Linked DNA regions of Homo sapiens. The protein of the gene in region 1 purifies or fractionates together with the protein of each later gene. This does not show direct contact. Each region holds a gene or a part of one and is shown in the gene's direction. Other genes may lie near its edges.

Region 1 (4,024 bases):
ATTATTATGTGCCCCAATTTGGATGTTATATTACAATTTTATGGATTACAACAATCATTATGATCTTACTGTAGGTATTTTCATAGAGCCAAGCTGTCCAGGCTCTGCATAGAGCAAAGTACTGAAGTTAAGGTGCAAGTTCTTTGAATGTAAAGGGATATAAGTGGGCTTGAACCCTTTTCTAGTTCCAGTGGAAAGTGACTTGTTTTTGTTTATGTGAATGCTTTCAGGACAGGTAAAAAGTATAAGTTTCTCATCATCTAAAGCATGTTGTCATGTTTTATTAAAGCCATTAGACATCTAAAAAATGAAGCTGAGTGGCAAGAGATTTTGGCCAAAGTGAAAGAGGAAGAGGAAGAGCCATTACCATCTTACTTATTTAAGGTAAAAACAAAACATGTGATAGACCGGTATTGCTCCCCTTACAGTAGAGTAAAGCAACGCAGGAGGTGAAAGTGTAAAGCAGCCCCTGCAGTCGGTAAGAATGCCATGGTCTCTGAAGGAGGAGGGTGTGTTAAGGCTGGACTGATGATCATCCTTGTTTTCTTCTAACAGTTGTCTAGATTTTCTCCCCAAGTTCTCCTAAAGTAGTTTGAACCTTTTCTTTTTTACCCTTAACTACATAGTCTTAACTGATAAAATAAATTTGTTTTTTTCTCCAGATATTCCTTGTCTTTGAATGTAGAGAGTAGAAGCACTTCTGTGTGTTTTGTTTTTTCCTGGATAGTTTTTTCCAGAGTAGAAAATTATATTGGATAGTTTTGCACATTTAAAAAAAAGAAGAAAACTATAGGATTTACCAGAGCTGGACATTTCTGTTAATCACAGCTACATGTGAGTGTAAGATTGATACAGATACTATGTTTTCATCCCCTTTTGGTGTCTGCATTTCAGGACAAACAAGTTATTGGCATTCATACATTCTCTGTAAACATGAAATTGGAAGCTGTAGACCCCTGGTCTCCTTTTGGGATCTCTCCTGCTACAGTTGTTAAGGTAAAATGGAGATAACTCTCTTGGTAAGAATCCCTGTCAAGGTGACTGGTTTAGGAAATGGGTAGTGTTTTGATCTTTAAGCTCTATTGATCCAACCCATTTTTCCTTCTAGGCCGTGCAGCTAGAATTACTTCTGTGCACGTTTTGTATTTGTCCAGTTTGCTGTGGCCCATTCCTCCTTCAGAGCTTGGTAGCCCTAGCCAAAGCAGCCTTGGGCCTGGGCACTGGACTAGTAGGGGACGCATTCTTTGGGGCAGGCCTAGCTGCATATAAGTAAAGGAGATTTAACTCCTTTAGGAGGCCAGGGTATCTGTAAAGTTGGAGGCAGGCAGTCTCATCAACGTCTAACCAGATGCAGAGCTCATTGGAATGAGGAGATGAATGGGGATCAGGCAGTTAGTGTTAAAAGTTCTGGCAGTGGACTGGCTCCAGCTATGTATTCCAGATTCAGATTTAATCTTTTGGAATACTGACAAAACTAAGAAGTAAGGTTATCAAGGCCCTGCTCAGTCACTACAACTGAGGCATTGGCGAGAGAATTTCAGTTTCCAACTAGAGCAGAAGGACATTTACTGAAAATAGAAGCCAAAGTTGAATGTGACTAGAGGAATAGTTGCCTGGGTGCTAAATCCTCTGACCTATTGAGATTTAAGTTTTCCCTGTCTTGGAAGAAGATTATTCTCAAAGCAAGGAGGGATTCTGAGCCTGCAGGTGGGGCCAGAAGGCCCTACCTAGAGTCTGAAGGGAGGGCTAGTGGGAAGCCAGAGGAAGTTCATAAAGTTATCTCTTTGGCCGGGTGTGGTGGCTCACGCCTGTCATCCCAGCACTTTGGGACGCCGGGGCAGGCAGATCACCTGAGGTCAGGAGTTCAAGACCAGCCTGACCAACATGGAGAAACCCCATCTCTACTAAAAATACAAAATTAGCTGGACATGGTGGTGCATGCCTGTAATCCCAGCTGCTCGGGAGGCTGAGGTGAGAGAATCGCTTGAACCCGGGAGGCGGAGGTTACGGTGAGCCAAGATTGTGCCATTGCACTCCAGCCTGGGCAACAAGAGCGAAACTCCGTCTCTAAATAAATAAATAAATAAAGTTCGTTCTTTGGCATTTGAAACTGGGCTAGGATTTGAAAAACTAATACATAGTAGCATAAGCTTAAACTAAGTTTGTCACTAAGCTTAGAATAAATTTTGTTTGGAGCCAAACTACATGGCTTTGGATCCAGGTTTTGCTTCTTCTTTGTTTTGTAACCCAGGGCAAGTTATTTAACCTCTGTTTGAACTCATTCTCCTTATCTGTGAAATGGAGTTGATAAAGGTACTTGGGCCAGGTGTGGTGGCTCATGCATGTAATCCCAGCACTTTGGGAGGCTGAGGCAGGAGGATTGCTTGAGCCCAGGAGTTTGAGACAAGCCTGGGCAATATATGGAGACCGAGTCTCTACAAAAATTAAAAAAAATTAGCTGGGCATGGTGGTGCATGCCTGTTGTCCCAGCTACTCAAGGGACTGAAGTGGGAGGATCAACTGAGCCCAGGAAGTCAAGACTGCAGTGCTTCGGTGAGCCAAATTCATGCCACTGCACTCCAGCCTGGGTAAGAGAGCAAGACCCTGTCTCCAAAAAAAAACAAACAAACTATATATATATGTGTGTGTGTGTATATATGTATATATGTGTATATATATATATATATGTATATATATGTATATATGTATATATATGTATATATGTATATATATGTATATATGTATATATATGTATATGTACTTACCTCATTCAGTTGTTAAGATTAAAACTGAATTGATACATGAAAAGCATTTAATTAAAACAGTAATTATATGTATTACATAACACAGAGCTAACATTTAGTGTTTAGTATTATTAATACCCACATGAGTATGAACTTTTGTAATATGTTTGGCTGTGCCAAGGAGAAAGCACATATATATGTGTGCATTTGTCTATTTCATCTATTAATTGCATGTATAGGTTTTTGATGAGAAGTACTTTCTGGTGGAAATGGATGACTTGCGTCCTGAGAACCACGCACGGCGATCCTTTGTGTGCCACGCCGACAGTCCTGGCATCTTCCCTGTGCAGTGGAGTCTGAAGAATGGCCTACACATCAGCCCCCCTCCAGGTGCACATTCGCTGTCTTCTGAATTGTCACTTGAGAGCTTCTCCTTGAAATGAGACATGTCAGATGGCATTGCTGAAATCTTTTGTCCCTCTCCTCCTGCCCTAGCCTGTTCCTAACGTTTTTGGGGTCTGAGAAAAGTATAAGGAAAGGTCTAGATTCCATGTATTTACATATTTGAAAGTTACAAACTGAGCTAAAAAACTGTTAAAGAGAGTGCGTTCTATCCTCTGACTTTGATATCTATGTCCTCATAACCCCCTGGAAAACCAGGTTCCAACCTGGGTTCGTGCTGGCTCCTTAGTCCCTTTTATGTCTGTTAGGGGTGGCAGAGGGGTGAGCTTGGATGCACAGCAAGCACTGGGGGCTGGCTTGTGAGAAGAGGCCGTAGAGCCAGAGTTAGAAGGTAGATTACTGATTATCTTTAGGTGTCTGAGCCTTGTCATGGAGGGGACTTTCTACAGAGAAGTTTATGGTGAAGAGTAGAACTCAGGGAGTAGGTAGGAAAATAAAAGCTCATTTTCCTGATATTTGCAACTTTGCAAAATATAGTCTTTGATCCTTTAATCAAGGCCCTTAATTAATGGGTTAGTTGAGCTTGACTGAAATTTTTAATATTTTTAAACTTAGAGAATCTAGAATATGTCAGATGTTTATCTGATTTTTTAATATTAGCAAATCAGATTATTTGATTGGCAGTCTATATATGTTATTAGTAGGTTTTCAGTAAAGCATAGCATCACTTTTCTAAATGGTGACTGCTGGAACACTGGGCTGGAAGTACTCTTTCTTGTTAACAAGGGTCATAAACTCAGAACCTTTGTCTTCCATTCAGCTTTTATTCATTCAACAAACATTCATGTGAAGTTTGCTGTAAGCCAGGCATTGAGCTT
Region 2 (2,189 bases), on another chromosome or scaffold:
TTCCATCCAGCATGTTTGTACTCTACATGCTTGTCCTTACAGAGGAAACGGGTTGGTTTTGACACAAATTTCCCTCTCTCCAGGAGTTGAGGAGCCAGAAACAGAAGATGGTCTCAGAAAGGGAGCGGCTCCAGGCAGAACTGGACCACTTACGAAAGTGCCTTGCCTTGCCTGCAATGCACTGGCCTAGGGGCTACCTGAAGGGATATCCCAGGTGACGGTTTCCCTTGCACTAGGCCGAACCTATAGTATAGAAATATTATCTATTTTATTACCTTGAATATTTAATATTTTTCACTGGGAGGTTTGAAGCTTACAAAATGAGAATGTGCCATGCATGAAGCAAAGGATTCCAGGCTCCAGAAAAAATGAATGAACTCACCTTGACGTCAATGCAATTGAATCACCGTTGTCATTCAGCGAGCAACCAATGTAGGATTGCCCACAGTTTTTCTTTTTAAAGGTGGTTTTCGCCCTTCCTCTCCCACATTATTTCTTAATCTGAACATGAAGGCTCCATTAGCAACACTAAAACTTGATCATTAACAGCCCCCTGTGCATATGAGTGGATCAAACCGGTTCTGTTCTTTCTTGTGTTGCCATGTTACTATGCCTCAAGCCCAGTTTGCTTTTGCCGCAGCGATGGGGCCAGTCTCATTCCTCCCCAGGAGTGAAACTTGCTTCAGCTGAAAAGGTTGGGTGCATTGTCAGTAAAAAGGGCTTATTTGTTTCATTTTACTTTCCTGCAAAATTTTCTTCAAAGCAACAAGTCCTAGGAGCACACAAAGCAACCCAAAGGCTTTTCCCTGGAAAAGCTCTTTCTTACCTAAAGATAAAACCAATTCACAAACTGAAGGTAGCTTTTTATTACTCCGTGGGGAGCATGTACAGAGCTCTGTGTATACACAGCTTCACACCCACCAGATTGTTACTACAGTGGGTTGGGTTTTCATACAGACGTAAATTTTGAGAGAAAAGTCAAAGGTGCTTCAGCCTTGTACTGTGTATATATATTAAAAAAAAAACAAAGTTTTGTATGTTTTTATTACTTTAACTATTGTTATAAAAAGCCTGCCATTTTTAATATGTGGTTTGGGGGATTTTTGTTTGTTTTTCCTGTTTGGGGGTTTTGTTTGTTGTTTTGGTTTTTTTTGGGCAAAAAAAAAAAAAAAACCTTGCTTTTAGTGTTTGTACTGCTGCTGGTCAGGACATTAAAATATTGAAGTGTTTTTAAAAATTAAAGAAGAAGAAAAGTAAAAGAGCTTACCACTGGCGCCTATGCGATCACTTCATTTTTAGTTTGAGTTGCACCAGAAGCTGCCGTAGAAAGCCATGCGCTACTGCTTACCTCCTCCACTCCCCCTGCCTGCCCCCAGCATCTGGACAAGCTAATAGCAAATATTACCCATTGCTATCAAGGGAGGAGGGGGTAGTCTGTAGAACCCATGTGTGACAGTCATGTGCACACATGGGCGGGGGCTTTTAAAAACCTTTCAGGAAGTCAATGATTTCTGTGATTGATATAATTCTAAGGTGTCTGAGAGCAGGTACAGAATAGGAACTTCAGAGGCTTTGTTTAAACGCAAAGCTTTGTAAAAGCCACAAGGTCTGAGCTGAACCCCTCCTTTTTGAACTTACTGTGACAAGCACAGGAACGGTCAGAAACTGGGCTCATCACACCAAGGCAAAGCAACGGGCGAGTCTTCCTCCTTGTCCTAGTTACTGCCTATGGAGGCAGTGTTTAGATCAAGAAGGCCTCTCTTGCTCCCAAGGGCCCTCACCAGAGGCCAGGGCTGCCAGTCACTGGTCTGGGGGGTGGAGGCCTGAGCTGAGGGCAGGGTGCCTGACCTGTGTGCCGGCTGCTCACTGCTGTGACCAGCAGCCGAGCCCTTGGCCCTAGCCCTTGCTGCGCAGAACAGCTTGCTGGCAGCTGGCATCGTGTCGCTTTATCTGCCCCCGCACAGTTTGCTTTGTACGTCTGCCAAGAATCTTCCAGTTATTAGCAAACTCAGACGAATGTACCGCCAGTATTATCAGCAGTCAACAAGCACCTTCCTCTCCACAGAAGCAGCTGGAAGAGAACTCGAGGGGCTGTGCTGCAGGCCTCCCCTCGAAAGACACTGGGAGGTCAGCATGTTCCACAGGTGTTCAGAGGGAGTCTGCTACAAACTATCAGGGCAAAATCTCAC

The links.
Region 2: the proteins of SFMBT1 (region 1) and GSE1 purify together in Homo sapiens (affinity purification with mass spectrometry; one large-scale study listed by BioGRID and IntAct). This does not show direct contact.

The regions. Positions count from the first base shown.
Region 1 is NC_000003.12:52,927,301-52,931,324, reverse strand, and holds part of SFMBT1 (scm-like with four MBT domains protein 1), read left to right. Parts: intron 1-289; coding exon 290-384; intron 385-894; coding exon 895-996; intron 997-2,983; coding exon 2,984-3,134; intron 3,135-4,024. UniProt on the Homo sapiens protein: Histone-binding protein, which is part of various corepressor complexes. Mediates the recruitment of corepressor complexes to target genes, followed by chromatin compaction and repression of transcription.
Region 2 is NC_000016.10:85,672,322-85,674,510, forward strand, and holds part of GSE1 (genetic suppressor element 1), read left to right. Parts: intron 1-83; coding exon 84-218; 3' UTR 219-2,189.